Linked DNA regions of Homo sapiens. The protein of the gene in region 4 interacts with the protein of the main gene of each other region in a pairwise test. Each region holds a gene or a part of one and is shown on either strand. Other genes may lie near its edges.

The links.
Region 1: the proteins of FAM193B (region 4) and CNOT11 interact in binary tests that used the Homo sapiens proteins (3 or more experiments, as listed by UniProt).
Region 2: the proteins of FAM193B (region 4) and TRIM23 interact in binary tests that used the Homo sapiens proteins (3 or more experiments, as listed by UniProt).
Region 3: the proteins of FAM193B (region 4) and GOLGA2 interact in binary tests that used the Homo sapiens proteins (3 or more experiments, as listed by UniProt).

Annotation. Positions count from the first base shown.
Region 1 is NC_000002.12:101,251,682-101,255,685, reverse strand, and holds the start of CNOT11 (CCR4-NOT transcription complex subunit 11), read right to left. Parts: upstream 2,801-4,004; 5' UTR 2,722-2,800; coding exon 2,208-2,721; intron 1-2,207. UniProt on the Homo sapiens protein: Component of the CCR4-NOT complex which is one of the major cellular mRNA deadenylases and is linked to various cellular processes including bulk mRNA degradation, miRNA-mediated repression, translational repression during translational initiation and general transcription regulation.
Region 2 is NC_000005.10:65,607,334-65,610,833, reverse strand, and holds part of TRIM23 (E3 ubiquitin-protein ligase TRIM23), read left to right. Parts: intron 1-1,375; coding exon 1,376-1,591; intron 1,592-3,500.
Region 3 is NC_000009.12:128,269,508-128,273,007, forward strand, and holds part of GOLGA2 (golgin subfamily A member 2), read right to left. Parts: intron 3,359-3,500; coding exon 3,278-3,358; intron 1-3,277. UniProt on the Homo sapiens protein: Peripheral membrane component of the cis-Golgi stack that acts as a membrane skeleton that maintains the structure of the Golgi apparatus, and as a vesicle thether that facilitates vesicle fusion to the Golgi membrane.
Region 4 is NC_000005.10:177,519,289-177,523,563, forward strand, and holds the end of FAM193B (protein FAM193B), read right to left. Parts: intron 3,978-4,275; exon of another isoform or gene 3,871-3,977; intron 2,784-3,870; coding exon 2,687-2,783; 3' UTR 2,686-2,686; intron 894-2,685; 3' UTR 501-893; downstream 1-500.

The DNA.
Region 1 (4,004 bases), on a different chromosome or scaffold from region 4:
TCAGAGTCATCTGAAAAGCATTCTGAAGACATACCCACTAAATGTCTTACCCTAAACATACAATATCAGCAGCTCTGGGAGTGGAGTGTAGGCACTGATATTTTCTCTTCTATGTTATCTACACACCATCCCTACCTACTTTAATAATGGTATAATAGTGGGTAACACTCACAGGTACTTTTTTTTTTTTTGAGACGGAGTCCCGCTCTTTAGCCCAGGCCGGATTGCAGTGGCACAATCTTGGCTCACTGCAAGCTCCGCCTCCCAGGTTCACGCCATTCTCCTGCCTCAGCCTCCCAAGTAGCTGGGACTACAGGCGCCCGCCACCGCGCCCGGCTAATTTTTTGTATTTTTAGTAGAGACGGGGTTTCACCGTGTTAGCCAAGATGGTCTCGATCTCCTGACCTTGTGATCCGCCCGCCTCGGCCTCCCAAAGTGCTGGGATTACAGGCGTGAGCCACCGCGCCCAGCCCACTCACAGGTACTTTTATTCTTTGTAACAACTCTACCAGCTGGGAATTGTTACTATTTGCATTTTACAGATGAGGAATCTGAGGCACAAAATGGTTAAATATAATCCATCCATGGATTCCTTCTCTGGTGACTGCCATCCCACCTATGGCAAATCTGTGTGTATAATGCGGTCTACGGACTAGGTGTGGGTTTAGATTCACTGTACATGAGAATGACATTATATAAGTCACGGTTTCTTTGCCTCACTTGTTCTTCAGAATTCAAAGGGCCCTCTGATCTAAATCCCAGTGTCCCAATCCTCTAATACAAGCACCCTAGGGTGGTGGTTGTCTGTGTGTGTGTGTGTGTTTAGAAGCTGTCACCCTAACTCACTGCAGCCTCAAACTCCTAGGCTCAAGTGATCCTCCTGCCTCAAACTCCTGAGCAGCTGGGGCTACAGGTGTTAGCCACCCCATGCCCAGCAAATTTTTTATTGCTTTGTAAAGACAGGATCTTACTATGTTGCCCAGGATGGTTTCAAACTCCTGGCCTCAAGCAATTCCCACCCCCCAACCTCCACCACTTCGGCCTCCAAAAGTGCTGGGATTATAGGCGTGAGCCACCTAGCCAGGCCTAGGTGGTGAGTTTTGACCACAAACCTGTGTTACATTCACTTTCTGGGCAGTCACAAGCTTCTTAGAAGCAGGTTAAGTACCTGTACCCTAAAGGCATCTCAGGCCAATACAAAGGGTTGCCCTTCTTAGATAAGGGCACTACAGGACACCTATCAGAAGATCCTGATGGGATGCCCGGCAGGAACACTAACTAGAAACGCGGCCCTCCTGTACCATAAAAACAAACTCCTGGTGTTACTTCAAAATCTACTGCCTAGCCTTGACTCACTGTATAGCAGGCCCTACCTATACTGGTTAAGGAATGTAAGATCAAGCTGTTTCCTATCTCTGTGTGCTTCCTCCACTACACTGGTTCCTAAATCCTTCAGGTCCCGTTGTCAACATGCCATTTTTCTTGTTTTCTGACTGCAAGTCTTCTCGCAAAGCAAATCCACATAAAGCATCACCTGCTTGAGCTTAAAAACAAAAAAAAATGCAGCCTCGCATCTAACCTACTAGTTTGATCTCACCAATGCCACACAATAGTAAATACATTTTACATAATGTATACCACGTATGCACTTTACATAATGTCCAGTAAGTCATGTGTTTCCAAACGCGAGATCATCAATTTGAGACTTTCTATCCTCTGCCCCCATCCCTAACAGGCTAAGAAAGGCGGCTGCAAAGTCTTTAAGGTGTTTCATGTGTATTTCCGCCCACCAACTTCTTCAGCTTCTTAATACTGACTTCCACGTACTCCTTTGAGACTAAAAACCGGGGACAGATCCAGTCTTATCATTGGTTTTAACTTCACACACCACAGACGGGTTTTCGAAGAACGAACCGTATTTGAGACACTAAACATGTCAAGACCTACACTGAGCTGTATGATGTGATGGGGTGTATAGAGAAATCATTTTCGGTGTCACGAACTTGCAATTAAGCTACCACCTCTCCATTCTTTAGAGTTAAGGCGGGGAGGAGTGAGGGGCGTGGGAACGCAGAGAGAGGCGGAAAAAGAGGATGATCATTTCACAGGGATAGTTAATTTCCCTTTCAGGTGAGTTCCCAGCAGCGCAGGTGGAAAGCTGCGGAATCTAACGCTATCCACACGGCACAGCTGGCTTCAGGAGGTACCTGAGAGCGGAGGGCGGTCGGGTTCCTGGCCGCCGCGGGCGGGCGGCGCGGGGTTGAGCAGGTGCGCGAAGCTGGCGGCGAAGGGGTTGGCGGCCAGCGGCTCGGTGCGGTACATCTCCCAGAGCAGGTAGAGCGCCGTGAGGCGCTGCGCCGCGCTAGGCAGCAGGTCGGGCTGCTGGAGCAGCATGACGAGCACCGAGCCCAGGCGGAAGTGGTCGGCCTTGCTGAAGTAGTGGTGGAAGGCGGTGGACAGGCCCTCGAAGGTGCTGCCGCCGCCCGCCTCCTCCGATATGATGCTCAGCAGGCTCGAGAGCTCCTTCGGGGTCAAGCTCATCCTGCCCGCGGGGCCCCCCGGGCCTCCGCTCCCGGACCCGGGGCCGCTTGCTCCGCCTCTGCCGCCGCCGGAGCCCCCGAAGCCGCTCCTGGACGCCGACCCTGCCGCTTCCCGGGACCCTCTTTGCTCCGCGGCGGTGAGAAGCCGGCCAGACGCCGCGCTCGCCCCTCCGCCGGGCATCAACCTCGCTCCCCTTCCCCTCTTCCCGGCCCGAGGGGCCCTGGCGCCGGCTCGCTCCGTCCCCGCGGCCGTAAAGCGCGCTGTTACACGACAGCGTCGCAAACAAAACACGTCGGGGAAACCAGACCGCCGCGGAGAGGGACAGCGCCCAGCGAAAGCGAGGCTGATGGAGCGAAGCCAGGAAGAGGATGCGGAGACGCGGGGTAGGCGGGGCGAATTGGCAGGAAGCGGGGGCGGGGCCCGGGAAGGGAGGGGAGGGGCGGGGCGAGGTCGGGCTGGTGGCGTTCAGGGTTAGGTCTGCCGAGGTCCCGCGGCAGGAGAGCCCGGGGACTGCATGCGTCTGCGCAGCTGCGAGGTTAAGCCGCCCTTTGGCGGTCCCCAGGACGGTTCCTGGTGCCAGACGGTCCCAGTAAGTGCTGTCTACGTTATTATTTGGAAGAATGCACCTCAGATGTTAACTATTTTCTTAATATAACATCCGTAAGTATTCGTCGTAAAAAGTATTGTAAATGCAGGCCGGGCGTGGTGGCGCGTGCCTGTAATCCCAGCACTTTGAGAGTCCTAGGCGGGAGGGTCGCTTGAGCCCGGGAGTCCCAGGCTGCAGTGAGCTGTGATCACCACTGCATTGCAGCCCGGGCGCTCTGTCTCAGAAACATTTTTTTTAATTTAGTAAATGCAAATATACCACACATTTCACATAACCACGGTTAATTTCTAGTCTTACACTCATTGCAGAAATGGAATCATACTGCACTATGAGCTTTTTTGTACATGGTTTTTTCTCTTAACATGATTTCGAGAACATGTCTCCAGTTAATATTCATTTACAAAATTGTTTGCTGTGCCACGTTTTACTTAGATTGCCCTAGGGCACTTATCCTGGGCACTTAGCTGTGCATTAGAAACCCACGGGGAGACGTTACAAATACCTAGTTCCACCCCCAGAGATGCTGATTGAGATATTAATAAACCCCACCTCTTCAGGTGAGTCTGAGGTGTAGTCTGGGCTGAGAACCACCAGGTGGCATTTCCCAGACTTGCCCGGTCCCTAAACCTACAGAAACGTACGCGTATTTCGCCAGTGATTACCACCAGCGATTCTAATTATCTAGTTAAGAGCCACCTCAATTCTTTTTTAAAACATATTTTTATTTTATTTTATGTGTTTTTGGGGAGAAAGATATTTTATGTAAAAAAAATTTTTTTCATCTTTTTAAAACTTGTATTTCAGTAGTTTTGGGGGTACAGGTGGTTTTTGGTTACATGGATAAGTTTTTAGTGGT
Region 2 (3,500 bases), about 110 Mb from region 4:
CTCATTCTTTTTTATTTTTCATATTTTCACCTTCTACTAAGTAATTAATGGGCAATTACAATTTGCCAGTATTGCACCAATCATTAGAAAGTTTTTTAAAAGTCCCTGTCTTTCAGGAACTCATTCATCATGGAAAAGAGAGAGTTTGAAATATGGTAACTATTTTATGGAGGAGAAGTACAGGGTGCTTTGGCATCACAAAACAGGGACAATGATTTATGGAGGTCAGAGAAGTCCTTATAGAAGAAATGGTGTTTAAACTGAGATTTGAAGAATTTCAGTCAGGGAAAAGAGCAGAACGGGGAATGAGTTGTCCCAAGAAGGGAACAATATGTTAAAATGTTTGTAAGTGAGGATTGTACATATTGTAGAGACTTAAAGAAGCTCACTGTAGTTAGAGCTTTAAGTATTGAATGGGACATGACAAGAAAAGAGGATATGGAGAGTTCAAAGCCAAATCATGCAGGATCTTGTCAGCCATGTTAAAGAGTTCAGAACTTAGTTTAAGGACAGTGATGAGCCATTGAAGAATTGACTTAGGAATGATATAATCAGATTTTCCTCAAGAAAGGTTGTTTTAAATGTAGAAAATGAATTGGAGGAGCAACAAAATTGGAAGCAGGCAGACCTATTAGGATGTTGTTAAAGTTTTCTAGTTAAAATACTAGAGATGTTTATGGCCTATAATACACTAGGGTAGTGAGAGTGGACACAAGTCAATGGATTTGAGATTTTAAATAAGTAGAATAGATAGGTCTTAGTGATTAATTGTTAATATTGATTGGATAGGTAACTTAGAGGTGATGAGGCATGATCAGATTTTGGGTGTATTTTGAAGTCAGCAGAATTTGCTGAGGGACTAGTGGGCTATGAAAGAGAGCTGATAATGATGACTCCGGTTGTTTTTGCTTCAACATCCTGAAGGATGGAGTTGCCATTTACCAAGACAGAGGCAATTAGGTTTGGGAATAGGGGAGACTGGAGATTAGGCATTCCATTTTGCTTGAGATGTCATTTATAAACAGTTGAATTTCCAATGTCTGTGCATTAGGGGAAAGATCTAGCATGGAGATTTATATTTTGGAATTTAATATAGATGGTATTTAAACAATGTCTCGCTCGGTCACCCAGGCTGGCATGCAGTGTTGTGATCACCACTCACTGCAGCCTTGACTTCTGGGGCTCAATCAATCCTCCCGCCTCAGCCTCCTGAGTAGCTGGGACTACAGGCACATGCCACCACGGCTGGCTAATTTTTTCCATTTTTTGTAGAGACAGAGTTTTGCCATGTTGCCTAGGCTGAAATTTTAAATATTTCACAGGTAAAATCTTTATTAACATTACAGTTGCTTAAAATTTATTTTCATTTTCTTAGGTACCAGGGACTGCAGAGAATGCCCGGTCATGTATTCGAGCTTATTTTTATGATCTACATGAAACTCTGTGTCGTCAAGAAGAAATGGCTCTAAGTGTTGTTGATGCTCATGTTCGTGAAAAATTGATTTGGCTCAGGCAGCAACAAGAAGATATGACTATTTTGTTGTCAGAGGTTTCTGCAGCCTGCCTCCACTGTGAAAAGACTTTGCAGCAGGTAGGTAGTTTAAATGTGGTTAGGGACTTAGTTGTAAGTTTAAGTAGATAATTACCAGAGGTATACATTAGTGTGTTTTATTAATATTTTGTGTCTGCTGTATGCAGTAACTTTGTGCTTAGGAAATGGTCTGCAACCTTGAATTATTTCACTAGTATGGAATTATCAGTGTCGTTCACGTGCCTTTCCCACCATAAGCCATGGGTTCTTGAGGCCTTCTAACTTCTTGCCATTCTTCAGTTATGCCAAATCCTTTTACTCTTCTTTGCCAAGCATATATGTAGTTTTTTTTTTTTTTCTGCTTGGAGTGCATATATCTCTCTTTTCTAATAGTGGAAATCTTCCTTCTCCTTCAAGGTCCAGCTTAAATATTTGCCTTTCTTTGAAGCTTTCTATTTGTTGGTCTTTTTTTGAGTGCCTCTCTACCATGTACTGCCTACGTCTGCTATAATTCAGTGGTTCTTCACTGTTAGAGCAAACGTATGTTTTGTGATGGTTGAGATACCATAAGAAATTTGTTACCCAGTTTGCAGATGACTTACTTTTTTAAATAAATGAGATTCAGTTATTCTAACACAAATGTCAGCTTTACCCATTTGTGTTTTGGATCTGTTTTCATAAGTGTGAGGTATAAGAATAACTATTGCCCTAGGAATTTCAGAAAAGCTGCAGTCTGTGTTATCTTCACTGATATATTGCTAATAATTGTGTTGATTTCAAATCATTGTAGGCTAAGCCTTGTACCATTGTAGAGCTTTTTCTCTTAAATATGTGATTACACTTACATGAGAGTGGCCAGTCTATAGCCTCATCAGTCTTGGGTTATCATTTAGTCCTTACCACACTGAATTGTAACAGTTGATATGTATGCTATTTATTAAGTTGATTTTCAGCTCCAAACCTACTCTTCTATCCTCTATTTTGTGATACTAGGGCTAGAACTCTACAGACCTCATAATTGTGTTGCCAGCTGGGCCCATGTTAGGTACTGTCAAGAGGGGGCATAGTTACTCATGTGAGGAGACCACCCTTCTCGGAGGTTTGAGTTTCAGCTCCATGAGCCACTCCTGCAAGTTTCTAAGTTTTAATAATTCTAACTTCTTCCTTTTATTCCTTTAGCACTGGAAGTGGTAGCTATGTTATTTCATACAATTGCTACCTCCTTAATACCTCAGAGTTCCTTTTAACCTTTTAGCTACCTAGTTAATAACTACACCTAGTTAACAGTTTTTATTTTAAGTTCTTTCTATTCAAGTAATGGTGTGATTTGTGTCTTCCGATTTGACCTTGAATGACACAATATGCCTATGTGTTTTAGATGCTGACCTTGTTCATCTTTGATGCATCTTGTTCATCTTTGTGTCACTAAATTCTTTGCATCTAGATAGAAAGAGCTTAATAAATACATGTTTAACTCATGGCGGATAATGAAGCTACATAGCAAAATCAGAGTGGAGTCATGTCCTAAATCATATTTACTTGAACACTTAAAAGTATTTTCATATTTATTTTATGAAAAAGTTTGTTCATAGTTACTGAAATATTTAAGTATTTTAGAGTTTCTGAAGTGTTGTGCCAAAATGACTGGTATATTAGTCCATTTTCACACTGCTTTACAGATACTACCTGAGACTGGGTAATTTATAAAGGAAAGGGGCTTAATTTACAGGTTTGCATGGCTGGGGAGGCTTCAGGAAAGTTAGACAATCATGGGGGAAGGCGAAGGGGAAGCAAGCACCTTGTTTACAGGACGGCAGGAGAGAAAGAGAGAGCAAAGGAGAGGTGCCACACTTTAAAACCATCAGATGTCATGATTAATCACTATCATGAGAACAGCATGAGGGAAACTGCCCCAATAATCCAATCATGTCCCTCCCTTGACATGTGGGGATTACAATTCGAGATGAGA
Region 3 (3,500 bases), on a different chromosome or scaffold from region 4:
TAGGATTCAGAACTTGGGGTCATGTGGAGCCTCTCCCTTGCCCCCAACTGGACCTACCTGCTTGATCAGAGCCCCACCCAGCCTCTCTCCAGGCTCTGACCTTACTCTTCGCCCAAGCCTCTGGTTCTAGAGATCTTCTAATATCTGACAAGCCAGATGGGCAGACAGTGGAAAAAGCTGGCTGACCAGCTAAGCTGGACAAGAGAAAAACACCAGGGAGCCAGGGCCTGGCCACGGAAGCTGGGTCTGGGAGAAGTGACTACACCTCTCTCCAGGGAAAGGACTGCGCGCTCACTGGACCCTTCAGCCCTGGCTTCTGAAAACCCAAATCTGCTTCCCTCCTTAGAGCAAGTGCTGCAGAGGCTGGTGGAACTGAAGATGAGCCAAGCTGCCTTTGCATCTTTGCAAGTTTACTGTGACCATGGAACCTGGTGTTTCCTTGACAATGCCTACAACTGAATCTAATAGGTCAGAGCAAGGGTTCAGTTGCTGGCCAGGCATTAGCCTTGAGGGAAGGCTGGCACTCCTAGCAATGGACCCTGCTAGGCTTTAGGGCCCTCCTGGCATCTTCGGTTCCCACTGATCTCTAGGATTAGACACAAGAATGCTCAGAGGAAGGGAATTTTTTTTTTTTTTTTTTTTTGAGATGGGAGTCTCACTCTGTCGCCCAGGCTGGAGTGTAGTGGCGAGATCTCCACTCACTGCAACCTCCGCCTCCTGAGTTCGAGATTCTCCTGCTTCAGCCTCCCAAGCAGCTGGGATTATAGGTGCACGCTACCACGCCCAGCTAATTTTTGTATTTTTAGTAGAGATGGGGTTTCACCATGTTGGCCAGGCTGCTCTCGAACTCCTGACCTCAGGTGATCCACCCTCCTCAGTCTCCCAAAGTGCTGGGATTACAGGCATGAGCTACTGCACTTGGCTGAAAAAGCATTTTTCTGAGGACTTTCTGACACACATAGCATGATTATTTTGTGAGCAACCAAGTTATTTCATTATTTTAAGTCTTGTAGCCAAGATGGAGTTTTTAAAAAAGCCTACTCTCCTCAAAATGTCCCATCCCATTAAGATATTTTTTCTCTCTCCATTATTCCCTACTTCTGGAAATGTTATCAGCTCCGCTCAGGATACTACGATCACAGGCCTGCATTCCTGGAGTAGAAAACTTACATGGTAATAAAAATGAGAAATTAAAAAAAAACAAAACCTACATTGGAAACAGTTACGGATATAGAGAAGGTATAAAAACAGCAAGGGGCTGGGCATGGTGGCTCACACATGTAATCTCAGCACTTTGGGAGGCCAAGGCAGGTGAATCACTTGAGGCCAGGAGTTCGAAACCAGCCTGAGCAACATGGCAAGACCCCATCTCTATTAAAAATACAAAAAAAATGGCCGGGCGTGATGGTGCAACATCTGTAATCCCAGCTACTTGGGAGGCTGAGGCATGAAAATCACTTGAACCCGGGAGGGGGAGGTTGCAGTGAGCCAAGATCACACCACTGCACTCCAGGAGAAAGAGCAAGACTCTTTCTCAAAAACAAAAACAAAACAGCAAGAAGGAAATACGGGGATCTAGGCCTTTGTTTCCAGAATAGAGGGACCTGGGCTGGCACAGAATCTCAGAGCATTAGGAAACAGGCTGAAGACCCCCTAATCCACTGGACCATTGGCAGAGCAAAAGCCAAATGCTTTTGGCTGCAGGTCACCTCTAAGCCTGTGCTCCCCAGCCGTACCACTCAGCGTCTCCTCTGAGCTGGCAAGGTGAGTCACAGCACCTGGACAGACCTGATCAACTGGAGGGTAACAGGTATGAGACTGGACAACTCTCTAACAGCAGCCAAGGCTGCTCTGTCTCAGTCCCTCTCCCCATACCCATCTCCAACAGGATCAGGCTCTATTCGTGCCCTGCTCCTCTGGCTTGGCAGGAAGGAGTCCCCCAGGTGAGTTAGAGATGGAAGAAATGCCAAATCACAGCCAGAGGAGGTTGTCTCCCAGCCCTGTGTACCTCCATGCCCTGCCCCCCACCAGGCTCCCTGTGTTCCTGAAAGGTGCTCTGTGAGTTCACACTCTGGCCACGGCCTCACCGCTCCCCCTGCCTCCCCCACTCCCCATATGGATTAATGTTACCCACCTTTAATCTTCAAGCCAGCTTCAAATGCCACCTTCTCCAGCCTGGAGTCCATTTGGAACCAACCTCCCCCCGAGCTGAGCATTTGGAATGTTCCAAAATTCTCTCTTGCCTCCTTCAGAGGAGTCTGCCTCCCTCGGTGTGCAGCCTACCTTGTTCATCTATTTTATCCACTGTTTATTTATCAAAGTGCCTTTGTTGTCAAGAGCCCAATGAATATGGCTAAATGTCCATTTGGAGAGATTAGGGGCAGAACGTCTTGGTCACTCATCTGTTTGGTTAACCTCACAACTTTTACAGTTAGTTCCTCTGAAAAAATAGCTTCAATCCTTCCAACTATAATGTGAACTCATTTTCTTTTAACCCTTTGTTCCCTACTCTTAAACCAAAGTGAATTAATTTAAAAAAAAAAAAAAAACACTAACTTCTAGGTGGTTTACTGATCTTTGCCTTTAGGGTAAAACCTAAAGGTCTGTTGGTTTTTTTGTGTTTTTTTTTTTTCATCTCTCCTAGTCTGAGAGTACCCACACTGGGCATTCAAAAGCCCAAATCCCAGAATCCCAGACTGGGAGCAGTGGCTCACGCCTGTAATCCCAGCACTTTGGGAGGCCAAGGTGGGTGGACCACTTGAGGTCAGGAGTTCAAGACCAGCCTGGCCAACATGGTGAAACCCCATCTCTACTAAAAATACAAAAATGAGCCAGACATGGTGGCAGGCACCTGTAATCCCAGCTACTCAGGAGGCTGAGGCAGGAGAAACACTTGAACCCAGGAGGCAGAGGTTGCAGTGAGCCAAGATTGTGCCACTGCACTCCAGCCTGGGCAGTGAGACTCCGTCTCTGAAAAAAAAAGAAGAAAAAAAAAAGCCCCAAATCCCACACACCTGCTCTAAAAGTTATTCCCAAATTACCTTTAAACTTTTAAACTTTAAGATATGTCTCACCTTCTCCAAGATGATAAAAGATTTGGGGGAAGAATAAAAACCCAATCAATCAAGCAGGTGAAGAAGCGGACATAAACAGGCGGAAGGTTAATGGCAGCAACATAAAATAAGCCAGAGGCAAAGTATCCCCCAAACCAGAGAAGCCTCAGGGGCATGCACAGCTGGAGAGAGCAAGCCAGAGAGGGGTCTCGGCACTGCCTCACCTTCCACTTGTCCAATGGGGGGAGCGCTACCCCATTGGAACGGTTAAGGTCGGACACCAGCACCTTCAGAATGTCCTGAATCTACAGGAGGCGAAAAGGGAAAAACAAGGGCAGGGGGAGAAAGGTAGAAGTGGCTTAGAGAGAGGCAAGAAAGTCAGGGAAGGAGGAAGATGTGGGTTCAGGGAAATGAAATAAGAAGAGTGGAGGAGATCAATACCATGGC
Region 4 (4,275 bases):
CCCACTGGAAAATCAGATCTAATTTATAAAAAACTCAATTTACCCCCAACTTCCCCTGACTGTGAAGTCAGTGTGAGGGGCCTCGATGGCCCAGGCTACAGATCCATGAAGGCCTCAGGGTCTTTCCTAGACCTCTTCTCACATCCAGATGCACAGAGACCATCTTCAACCCCTCCAACTCACCCATCTTGCAAAGAGGGAAACAGGAAAGAGTGGGGAAGGGGCTGCCCCAGGCTCACATACCAGAGACCTCCCAAAAGGAGAAAAGGGCACAGATGCCATAATCATACCAGTCTGCGCTCAATGCTAATCAGCCAGACTAAGTTGAGCTGAGTCACTTTCCTATCGGCTTTAGTTTCCTCACCTGTAAAATGGGACAATAGCACCAAACTGCTGATGCATGGTGCATGCTAGGGTTAGTGACTAAGGGAGAGCCCATGCTTCTGAGCACACCCTCAACTCCCTCCCCGCCCAGACCCACAAATCACCAACATGCCAACTCTGTGTCCAAATGTTGCTTTATCTTTCGGCACGAAAGATCTTCACAGTATCAAAAGTAAAGAATTGGAAAAAAACAAAATAAAAACAAAAACAAAAAAACCAAACACAAAGAGAGCAGTGTTGGGCCAGCAGTACCATCAGCCCTGGCCCTTAGGCCAGCCCAGTCCACGGGCTCTGAGTGTGGAGGCTGCGTAGCACCAGGAAGCGGCTCTGCTGAGGTCAAGGGGCCCCAGCACAGTGTGGCATCCGTTCAGCTTTTGGTTGGTCCAGGATGGTGGGGAGCACAGAGGGTCTTGGACGGGTAGGTGGGGCACACGGAGGGAAAAATTATACGCCTTCAGCTGGCAGTCAGGGCCTCAGGACGCCCTGAAGCAGCTCAGCCTGGGCAGGGCCTGAGAAAGAAAAAAAGAGCAGAATCACAGTAAGCAATGAGCCATGCTCCAGCCTCCCCATGCCACTTGGGTACCCATGGGTCTCTGGTAGCAGAAACAGCTGGCTGCTATTTTTGTTCCCTGGGCTGAAAATGTTGAAGATTCCCTGGATCACCTGTAGCAGAGGATGCAGGTTAACGGGTTGGGAGACAGAGCCCCAGTCCCAGGATCCTGACAAGGTGGGGGACAATCCTTGAGTAGATCCAGCCTTTGGCACTTGCTGTCCATCAGCAGGGGCTGGGAGGCCAGCTGTGCAGCTGTGCTCCTGCCTCTGACTGTAGGTGCACAGCCCGGGGGAGGGTGAAGAGGCTCAAAGGAGAGCGCTTACTAGGGGGTGGGGAGAGGGGCATCTTCTATCTTGGAAAAGAGGCCAGACCAGGTGAAAAAGGGTCAAGAGGAGGCAGTGGAAGGAGACAGTTGCATTTGATTTCTTGAATGACAGAACTGGGCTTGTGGGAGGAAATGCGATCTCTTTTCTCTCAGTAGGGATAACAGATGAAGTGCCTGGGGTTCCTGCTACTCCTGGTTCCCATGGAGGTGGAGAAGAGGCAGGAGGCCACCTTGGATCTGGAAGATACTTCTGGGGCTTGTGGGCATCTCAGTTTGGCAAAGGGGGCTGACTGAGCCCAACCCCTTCAGAGGAGAGGAGGACTAAAGTGAGTGTAAAGAAGACAGTCTGGACTCTGGGGCAGCACAAGGGTCACAGGGAGCCCCAGCTCTGAAGGCTGTCCTGGCTGCAGGCTCTCTGAGCTGCCCCTGGGGAGCTGAGGGTCCAGGAAGTTTGCTGCTTAGGCCCAGAGAGGAGCTGGCCTGGCACTGGAAAGAGGAGAAAGACAGGTGGGGCCATCATGGGGGAAGTGAGTTGTTTGTGAGCTCAGTCTGCCTGCCCCAGCCTTCCAGTCTCCAGGACAGCTGTGTGGTTGCCAGCCGGAAAAGGCCTGACCCCAGGGACACAGCTGAGGGTTGAGATATGAAACTGCAGAGCCACTCAGCCCCCAGCCCAAGGTCTGCCTGCTAGCTGCCCTTCTCTTCATCAATAGGGTTCCAGGCCCAGTGCCTTCTCCAGTTGTCTGTTCCCAGTCCAGATCATCATCTGGTACATCATTGTTTCAGACAAAAGGACCTGTGTGGGTGGCTGGGAGGGGATGCCAATGCCATCTGGCACCCAGGTCTCTTCCTCTAGGAGGCACTGTGGCTACCAATATCCTCATGGAGCTTGCCCTGCTTTGGGTAGCCCCCATCAACTCCTCCATGCCTAAATGACCCACGATGTTCACTCAGGGCTGGCCCCTTCTTATACTGCTTCAGCTGGGAAGTACCTTGGTAGCCTACACTGAGGAGCCCAGGGCAGGAAGTGGGACTTGACACAAGGACTGATAACATCAGGGGTGAGGGCAGCCCCATGGGTCTGATGGCTACCTGGGCACTTTTGAAATCAGCTGGTTAAGACCCTGATGGTTATGCCTTAGGAGATGCCAGTCCAGGAAGGGGACCTTCAGGAGCATGGGCAGCAGGGCCCAGGGAGGAGTAATAGAACAGAGGCCTACAGGTGAGTGGCTGCGGGAGGAGATGGGGCCTTGACCTTTGGAGGCTGTAGCCTGCCATTGCTGTGAAGATGCAGACAGAAGCCAGGGATCCCATGCCCCAAGTCCAACTCCCTGTGCCCCAGAGCACAGAATGGTCTGGTGAGCGTACAGAGAGGGTGGCCAAGCACAGGGAGAGGCAGTGGATGTAACTCTTGGGGTCTCTGTACCTCACTGAGCTGTGCTAGGAGTGGTTTTCTTGAGGCTGAAGTTGGTCCAGTTCACAGCAACTTTCTGACGAGTCTGCTTTGCAGAATCCAAACAGAACCTGTTGGGTTTGGGGGACACATGAGAAGCACAATCAGAGGTTCATTCTTTTGCTCACTGGACTCCTAAGGTACCATGTCCCCATCACTAAGAGACCAGGTTCTCTACAAAACCTCTTTGGCTCTCAGGTGCTAGGGTTTAGCAGGCATAGGAGCTTTGCTGGCTTGGGGGCTTCTGGATTGGGCCCAGGGAACTATGTATGAAGACAGTGAAACTGCCTTGGGATTCCAGTTCCTCCTCATCTGGTGTTTGATTCTCTAGCTCTGCTAGGCTGGCTTCCGTCATTCCCTTAAGTACAGTCGTCCCTCTGAATCTGCTGGGGATTAGTTACCCAGATACCAAACTCTGCAGATGCACAAATCCCTTATATAAAAATGGTGTAGTATTTGCATAAAACCTGCACTGCTCTTCCCATATACTTTTTTTTAAAATTACTATTTTTTTTTTAAATAAGAGATAGGGTCTCACTATATTGCCCAGGCTGGTCTTGAACTCCTGAGCTCAAGTGATCCTCCCACCTTGGCCTTCCAAAGTGCTGGGATTACAGGTGGGAGACACTGTGCTTGGCCTTCCCACATACTTTAAATCATCTCTAGATTACTTAAAATACCTAATACAATGTAAATGCTATGTAGTTATTATATTTTTATTTTTATTTATTTGAGACAGAGTCTTACTCTGTTACCCAGGCTGAAGTGCAATGGCACAATCTTGGCTTACTGCAACCTCTGACTCCCAGGTTCAAGCGATTCTCTTGCCTCAGCTTCCCAAGTAGCTGGGATTACAGGCGCCCGCCACCACGCCCGGCTAATTTTTGTATTTTTATTAGAGACAGGGTTTCACCATGTTGGCCAGGCTGGTCTAGAACTCCTGACCTCAAGTACCTCAAGTGATCCGCCTGCCTTGGCCTCCCAAAGTGCTGAAATTACAGGCATGAGCCACCACCTGTAAAAATACGTATTTTTTTGAGACGGAGTCTCGTTCTGTGGCCCAATCTCAGCTCACTGCAGCCTCCACCTCCCAGGTTCCAGCGATTCTCCTGCCTCAGCCTCCCGAGTAGCTGGGATTATAAGCACGTGCCACCATACCTGCCTTATTTTTCTATTTTTAGTAGAGACGGGGTTTCACCAACTTGGCCAGGCTGGTCTTGAACTCCTGATCTCAGGTGATCCACCCGCCTCGGCCTCCCAAAGTGCTAGGATGAGAAGCATGAGCCACCGCGCTTGGCCAAAAATACTAATTTTTAAAAAATTTGCATTATTTAGTAATGTATTGCTATTTTTTGTGTTTTGTTTTTTTTCCTGAATATTTTTGATTGCAGATATGGAGGGTGACTGTATGCCGTGTTTCTTTCACCCTAATCTTTTGTACTCACTGGCCCCCTTGGCATGAATACCTTTTCATCTTATCTGGCCAACTCATTCTTACTCTTCAGGTTTCAACTTGGTTACCACCTCTCCTGGGAAGGCCTCCTGGCCAGCCCCCACCCCTTC